Linked DNA regions of Homo sapiens. The protein of the gene in region 1 interacts with the protein of each later gene in a pairwise test. Each region holds a gene or a part of one and is shown in the gene's direction. Other genes may lie near its edges.

Region 1 (4,356 bases):
CGGTTCCCAGCCCAGGCTGGCGGCCGTGTTCTGCTGGGACCTGGGACCTGGGCTGCCTGCCCTCCTGAGGGGTCCCAGTGGTCGGTCGCCTGCCTTCTGGGTGGGTGTGGTAGAGGGAGGGTCAGGTGGCCCCCTGCTGTTGGGGGGCAGTCGCTGTGGGAGTGAGTCGTCCCCCCGGGCCATAGCAGGTAGGTAGGAGGTGCTCTGGCAGTTGAGGCCGCCCTGGCCTGGGACAGTCAATCAGCCTGAACACTGTGCCTGTTCCGGGATTTTGACCTGCCCTCCAAGGGCGCGGCGGGCCCAGCCTGCAGTGTCCCGGCAGCTGCCTCCTCTCTGGGTCGTTTGTTTTTCATCAGACAGAGGTTGTACTCTTGGAGGGACAAGCGAGGCTGTGTTTGTCTTTTACCCTGGAGACAGTGGAGTGTTTGTGGCCTAGCAGGGCCGTGCGGGCCTCTCGGTCCTGGTCGCGCGTGGTGTGCGTTTTGGGAGGGCCCAGCGAGTCGGCTGCTATGGGCCCCACCTGGCACGGGGCCTCGGGCAGCGGCAGCACCTGGCGCTGCCTCCGCGCTTCCTGCTCCCGGCTCCCACTGCATCTCCGGTTCTGTGCTTTGTTGAACGCGTGAGCTTCGGGCAGCGCTGGGGCCGCTTCAGCGTGACCTCCAAGGCCACTGGCCTGGAGTTCCACTGGCTGCTGGTCCCCCATCTGTGGGGCGCCCCGGCGGCTGAGGCGTGGACCAGGCAGTGCATGTCGAGGAGTAGCACCCACAGCTGCGCGGCTGCGAAATGATCCAGAGACACATCCCTGTCTGCGGGAGGAGCCGTCCATACCAGCGGGGATGTGTAGTCCAGGCTGGCAGTTCAGGATCACCCGGCTGGAGTCATTTTAAGATCATCTGCGGCTTAGCCCCAGCACCATCTGAGGCAGTACTGTCTGCTAGAAATAACTGTGAGCACACAGGTAGTAAGGTTTTTAGGATTTTATTATTATTTATTTATTTGAAAAAAGGAACAGGGTCTCTCTATCTTGCCCACGTTGGTCTCAAACTCCTGTGCTTAAGTGATCCTCTCGCCTTGGTCTCCTGAGTAGCTGGGACTACATGTGCACACCACCGTGCCCAACTAATTTATACTTTTAAGCAATGTGGGCTGGGCACGGTGGCTCACACCTGTAATCCCAGCACTTTGGGAGGCTGAGGCAGGTGGATCACCTGAGGTCAGGAGTTCCAAGACCAGCCTGGCCAACATGGTGGAACCCCGTCTCTACTGAAAATACAAAAATTAGCCGGGCGTGGTGGCATGTGCCTGTATTCCCAGCTACTAGGGGGGCTGAGGCAGGAGAATCGCTTGAACCTGGGAAGTGGAGGTTGCAGTGAGCTGAGATCATGCCACTGCACTCCAGCCTGGGCAACAGAGTGAGACTCTGTCTGAAAAAAAAAAAAATGTGGGCTGGGCATGGTGGCTTACGCCTGTAATCCAACCTCAGGCCTGCGGTGCGAGTCTGTGGGGGCAGATGCAGGTGGGGGAAGGCTGGCCAGCTGAGACTGTGGTTTGGGGGTGTTCAGGTGGGGTGGATGCCAGAGATGTGGGAGCCAGAGGCGCTGTCCCCCAGGGCCCTGTGAGCAGTCCCTGCAGGCTGGCTGTCCCCACGCCTGCCTCTCTGCTGTGCTGTCTGCCCGCCTAGGGCAGGCTCCCTTCTAATGGGCGGATCCCGAGAGCTGGGGGCCCCACCAGCCCTTCCTCTCCAGTGGAGTGGCCCTACTGCCTCATGTCCACCTGTGCCAGCAGCAGGGATGGTAATGGCTCTACTATCTCCTGTCCTCACCTGTGCCAGCAGCAGGGATGGTAACGGCTTTACTGCCTCCCGTCCTCACCTGTGCCAGTGGCTGGGATGTCTTCACCTGTGCCAGCAGCAGGGATGTCCTCACCTGTGCCAGCGGCAGGGATGGTAACAGTGCTGGTGATGTCAGGCCGGGAGGTTCTCACCCGAGAGCCGCCTTGGCACACTGCCCGGCAGTCAGGGATGTTAGCAGGAGCCCCGGGAGTGATCCCAGCTCTTCCCGCAGCCCCACTCCAGCCAGGGCCTCCTCTGTGACTGAGTAAGCAGGGACACCCCAGTGGCTGCCTGCTCCACCCGACAGCCAGGGCCCACCACAGCTGCAGGAATGTGGTCAAGGGATGGGAAGTCGGGCCCACCAGGGGAGGGGCTGCGCTCCGGGGCTTACGTTTCGTGGCTTGTCTTCTGAGGTCTCTCTTTTCCTAGCCCTTGGCCGACTAGGGGGCGAGTGTTTACAGAAACCACTGGAGGTGGGTGTTCCGTGTCAGTGCCAGGCTGTGTGCTGTTCTGGGAGGGGGCCCCGTGTCCCCCACACTTGGCATGCTTGCTTTCTGTCACTGCATAGCAGACTCCGTGCATCTGTGGGCTTAATACAACACCCGCCAGCTCCCGGTTCTGTGGGTCGGGGCCTGAATGTGACATGGCTGGCTCCTCTCTGCGGGGTCTCACCGGGCTGGAACCCAGGTGTCAGCCAGGGCTGTGTTGTCATCTGGAGGCTCAACGGGGGTGGCATCTGCTTGCAACTCACGCAGGCGTTGGCGGAATTCAGCAGCTTGCGGCCGGGGGACCAAGGGTCCTGCTCAGTTCCTGGCCACATGGCCCTTCTGTCTGGAAGCCAGGCGCCGCCTGTCCCCGCTTCTGCTTCCAGGCTCTGGCTTCTGGAGATGCAGAGATCACATCAGTGGTTGCCTGGGTTGCTGTGTGTGTTGTAGGGTGGTGAGACAAGTTTTCTCTTAGGGGTGATGGAATGTTCTGGAATTTTATAGTGGTGATGGTTGCACAACTCCAAGTGTCCTAAGAGCCACTGAATAGGACACTTGATAGTTTTTGGTTTTTGAGGTGTCTTTTTTTTTTTTTTTTTTTTGAGACAGAGTCTCGCTCTGTCACCAGGCTGGAGTGCAGTGGCACGATCTCGGCTCACTGCAACCTCTGCCTCCCAGGTTCAAGCAATTCTCTTGCCTCAGCTTCCTGAGTAGCTGGGATTACAGGTGCGTGGCACCATGCCCAGCTAATTTTTGTATTTTTAGTAGAGATGGGGTTTCACCATGTTGGTCAGGCTGGTCTCGATCTCGTGGCCTCATGATCTGCCCGCCTCAGCCTCCCAAAGTGCTGGGATTACAGGCTTAAGCCACCACGCCTGGCTTTTTTGTTGTTTTTTGACAGTCTCGCGCTGTTACCAGGCTGGAGTGCAGTGGCGCGATCTCGGCTCAATGTAACCTGCGCCTCCCAGGTTCAACCTTCTGGGTTCTCCTGCAAGCCTCAGCCTCCCTAGTAGCTGGGACTACAGGTGCGTGCCACCAGGCCTGGCCAATTCTTTGTATTTTTAGTAGAGACGGGGTTTCACCGTGTTAGCCAGGATGGTCTTGATCTCCTGACCTTGTGATCCGCCTGCCTCGGCCTCCCAAAGTGCTAGGATTACAGGCGTGAGCCACCGTGCCCGGGTTTTCATTTTTTTTTTGAGATGGCATCTTGCTCTGTCAGCCAGGCTGGGGTACAGTGGCACGATTGTAGCTCACTGCAGCCTTGAATTTCCGGCCTCAAGTGCTCCTCCTGTTTCAGCTTCTCGAGTAGCTGAAACCACCGGTGTGTGCCACCACGCCCAGCTAATTTTTTGATATTTAGTAGAAATGGGGTGTTGTTATGTTGCCTAGGCTGGTCTTAAACTCCTGGGCTCAAGTGATCCCCCCACCTCGGCCTCCCATAGTGCTGGGATTACAGGCGTGAGCCGCTGGTACCTAGCCATGAATTGTGCTTTTGAAAATGACCTGTCTTGGCTGGGCGCAGTGACTCACACCTGTAATCCCACCACCAGGTTGAAGCGGGTGGATCACGTGAGGTTAGGAGTTCGAGACCAGCCTGAACGACGTGGTGAAATCCCATCTCTACTAAAAATACACAAAAATTAGTCGGGCGTGGTGGCGCATGCCTGTAATCCCAGTTACTCTGGAGGCTGAGGCATGAGAATAGCTTGAACCCGGGAGGCGGAGGTTGCAGTGAGCTGAGATCATGCCACTGTACTCCAGCCTGGGCGACAGCGAGACTCCGTCTCAGAAGTAAAAAAATAAAATAAAAAAAAAAGAAAATGATCTGTCTTCTGGTAGGTGAATTATATCTTCGTTTTTAAAAACCAATGGCTGTTTAAACTCTGTGCACACCAGGGGTTAGCAGGACATGAGGGAGTGTAGCTCTGATGCGGTGACCTGGGCCGGAGCCCTCGGACTAGCCTCAGCTTTGGTGGCAGCACGCCCTGCCTTGTGGAGCCACGGCCTCCCGGGACGGACTCCCCGGCTCTCCCCCAGCCG
Region 2 (3,977 bases), on another chromosome or scaffold:
GTTAATCTAGACTGTATGGAAATAAATTTTGAGTGCCCTTTACTTGCTTGTGAGGGATTCTAAGAGCTCAGGCTTTCTAATCAGAAAAACTTCTGTTCGAGTCCCAGATCTGTCACTTACTAGCTGTGTGACCTTTGGAATTAAGCTGAGATTTTCCTTCTGTGAAATCATTGCCTACCTTGTAGAGTTGTTTTCAAGATTAAATTAGATAATGTTCATCAAATACAACAGTCCCTGGCACACCGGAAGCATTTGGGAAGGGGTTGAGGGTATTATTACCATTCCTCCTTTCCCTTTAGTAACTGAACCAAAATGACTTAACAGGGCTCATTCATATTTTCCTCATTTGTAAGCGCTCACATGACTTTGACAATCCAATCAAATCTAAATGGTCTGGAATTTAATATTCTCTTTAAATTAGAATATTTAAATGGGAGACTAGCTAGGCACCTTGGTTCTCCTTCTCTTGCTATGTCTGCTTTTTTTCTTTTCCTACCAGGTCACACCTTCATCAAGAAATGGCCCTAGGACAGTGATGTCGTAGAACTGGAGTCAGGAGTCCTGGGTCTTGCCTTGGCTCTGCCATTAACTTGCTCTGTGACTTTAGGCAAGTCACGACCTCTCTGGATCAATTTCTTCTTCTTTCTGTGAAAAGACAGAGTAGGACTAGATGACGTCTAAGTTCCCTTCCAGTTCTAAAATACTATGACTCTGCAATGTAAAACCTGAGCCTTTCCATTCCATTGATAGTTACCAAGTCTAGTGAAACGGTTTTGGTTTTGGAAATTGACCACAGAAATATAGGTTTCTTGTTACCTGCCCTTCTGATTTTCCTTTCACCCAAATGATAGAAGTCAGGACTGCATTTACTGAGCACTTATAATGCATTATCACATTGAATACTCTGTGAAGTGGGTATTATTGAGCCCATTTTGTATAGGAAGAAATGAAAGCTCAGAGAACCTAAGGAACTTGCCAGAGGTCACACAGCTAGAATGTAATAATATCAGAATTCAAACCCAAGTCTTTCTAGATTCCAAAGCCTGGACTCTTTAACCACCCTTGAGGGTGGACCAGGTAGAGAATAATGTACAGTGAGTACCTTGAGGCCCAGGTGAGGCCCAGCCACATTCCAATTAGCCCTTAAGGGAGCCATGAAGAGTTGGGGTCCTTTTTCCTCTTAAAAAAAGGGATCACGAGCCTCCCACTTACTGCTCCATAACGTTTCTTTTTTTAATTCCATAACGTTTCTTTAACCTGAAGTTCTCTTTACTAAGAGCCGTTTTAGGGGAAGCGGGGAGGACAGAAACCCAGAGAGTGAATTCGGATGACTGGCTGGACAGATTTCTCTGTGATCTTGTGGGTAGTATGGATTTTACCTCTCTGCTTCACTCTGTTTTAGAACCACCTTCTGTGGAGTTGGAGTGCGCAGTGTCTAGGTTCTCTGGGGACTTTGTTTTGAAAAGCTGGCCGGTCATGGGGAGTTTGGCTCTAGAGACCATGTTGGACAAGACTAGTCAATGGCAGTTTGCTGGTGAGGAGAGAAACTGTCCCAGTGTGACCCACCCCGAAGGACCCAGTAAGCCATCTGTGCATCAGTGGTCCCACTCCTGAGGCTCCAGGAAGTGCAGCTTGCTGTGTATCTTGGGAGCATCTGTGTGCCTTGTCTCATCTTTCTCCCCCTCCCAGTGGTGCTGGATGACAGCAAGAGGCTGGCCAAGAGGAAGCTGATAGAGGAGAACCGGGAGAAAAGACGGCGGGAAGAGCTGCAGAAGTCCATCGGGCACAAGCCAGAGCCCACAGACGAGGAATGGGAGCTCATCAAAACTGTCACCGAAGCCCATGTGGCGACCAACGCCCAAGGCAGCCACTGGAAGCAAAAACGGAAATTCCTGGTAAGGCTTCCTTGCACAGATCAGTTTCACTTATATGCCAGTGTTTTCTACCTCAATTTATTCAGTCCTCATCACCTTGGGATACTGGTGTTATTGCCTCATTTTACTGATAGGGAAACCGTAGCTCTGAGAGGCTGAGTAACTTGCAAAGCTAGGATTTGAGTCTAGGTCTGTGTGAGAATAAAGGCCACTCCTACCATCTACTTTGTGATTTGCTGAATTCTAAAACAGTTTCTTAGGCCACATTATATCAGTTTGCTTTTACTGTTAGAAAGACCACTCCCAGACCAACTAATTAGTAAAATGTTTTGTCTGCCATCTTTTACTTTCTATACCCATTTCTTTCCTTAGATGCCCAGTATATACATATTTAGTCCCTGAACTCAATCCCAAATATTCCCTTTATAATAGCCTCTAGGCCTCAAGTATATTTTTATGTCAACAGAAGTCAAAATTTTTTAGCTTAAATTAAATGAGCTTGACTCAAGAAGGGCAATGGGAATGAGGGAGTAGGGATAGGGTTGGTGGGCACGAGTGTGTAGAGAAAAAAGACCTTCCAGACCCTTGCAATATTGATGTTTAATATTCTTATAAAAATTACCAGTTGTGAAAATTCTTCCCATTCATTTTTTATTCAGACTTCATAGTGTTTTGAGGTAAGCTGGAATTACTATCCCCATTTTACAGACATGCAAACCAAGCCCAAGGCCTTAAGCCGCTTGCCCAGGATCGCACTGCTAAAAGCCAGGCACCAAAACCAACTCGGTCTTCTGGTTCCAAGTCCAGGCTCTCCACCCACCTCATTAGAAAGACTACGTGCCCTACTAGTGCTGGACCATCTCAGAGACTGACTCTGCTCTTAGTTTATGATATAAAACCCTTTTCAAGTACCTACCTGACAACAGATATTCTGTGGTTTCATTTGTATCCCTAGGACACATTAGAGTACTTCCCCATCTGAACAAGAAGATATAGTGGTATAATTATCCTTGTACCTCAACATTAACATTACAATGAGATAGTGGATCTTTTTCTTAAAACAACATAACAACAACCTTAAAGGAAGTTTTGGAAAGAAAAGGCTTATACATAATTCACCTGTACTGACACAATTACTTTCGTTGTAATGAAACAATAGTGCCAGCACTTTGTTGATGGCTTTCACTAACAGCAATGTCAGCAAATACCTAGATGGCCTTTACCATATGCCAGGTACTATTCTAAGTGCTTTTCATTCATTAACTTCCTATACCAATCCTGTAGGTAGATGTGGTTAATATCTCCATTTTACAGAAGAGAGAAGTAAGACACAGAAGTTGAGGAAACTTGCCTGAGCTCCCACAACTGGTAAACAGTGGTGATGGATGCAGCCAGCTCCGGGATTTATGTCTCTATCCACTACCCTATGCAATCTTGGCACCTGCACAAACCCAAAAAGCCTCTGAAAGATCCCAGCTCTTTGGAGGAGCAGCCTCTCAGTGCCTTGATCTTGCATCTTCACCCCACCCTGGTATATCTGCCAGAAAATTCAAAAGCACTAATTCTGGATTGATAGACAAATTCTAACACAGTACACTTGGGGCATAGCAAGACAGAGTCCTACCTAATTGCAAACTTAAATCCATCCTTTCCCCAAATGTGTCACCCATAAATGGACATTGTAGAAACCACTTCCAGGCCTGGCACTGTCTCCTGATTTCAAGTCGTGACCAAGCTGAATTCCAAGTAAGGTAGAAGATTTGAAGTTCATCCTGGACTTCTCCCGGGAATTTTATACTTTTATTGTCTTTACTCCCCATAGAGAAGGGATACTAGTCCAACTAAACTTGTTTAAGTAGTCATAAGGTGCTTCTTTCCAGACTTTAAAGATTTGTTCCTTTATTTAAGAAACATTTATTGAGTGGATACTATGTGCCAGAAAGTAAATAAGTCAGGCACATTCCTCTAGTGGGAGGCAGATAATAAGAGATAAACAAACAAAATAAATGCAGGTAGTGGTAAGTGCAATGAAGGCAATAAACAGTGTGATGGGATGAAGAGTTTGTGAACTGGAAGTGGGGAGAGACTTCATTTCTGTGAACA

The links. Proteins that work in one complex are often made in the same cells at the same time.
Region 2: the proteins of ADAT3 (region 1) and THRB interact in a two-hybrid assay, tested with the Homo sapiens proteins (one large-scale study listed by BioGRID and IntAct).

Annotation. Positions count from the first base shown.
Region 1 is NC_000019.10:1,907,678-1,912,033, forward strand, and holds part of ADAT3 (probable inactive tRNA-specific adenosine deaminase-like protein 3), read left to right. Parts: intron 1-4,212; 5' UTR 4,213-4,356.
Region 2 is NC_000003.12:24,141,419-24,145,395, reverse strand, and holds part of THRB (thyroid hormone receptor beta), read left to right. Parts: intron 1-1,689; coding exon 1,690-1,895; intron 1,896-3,977.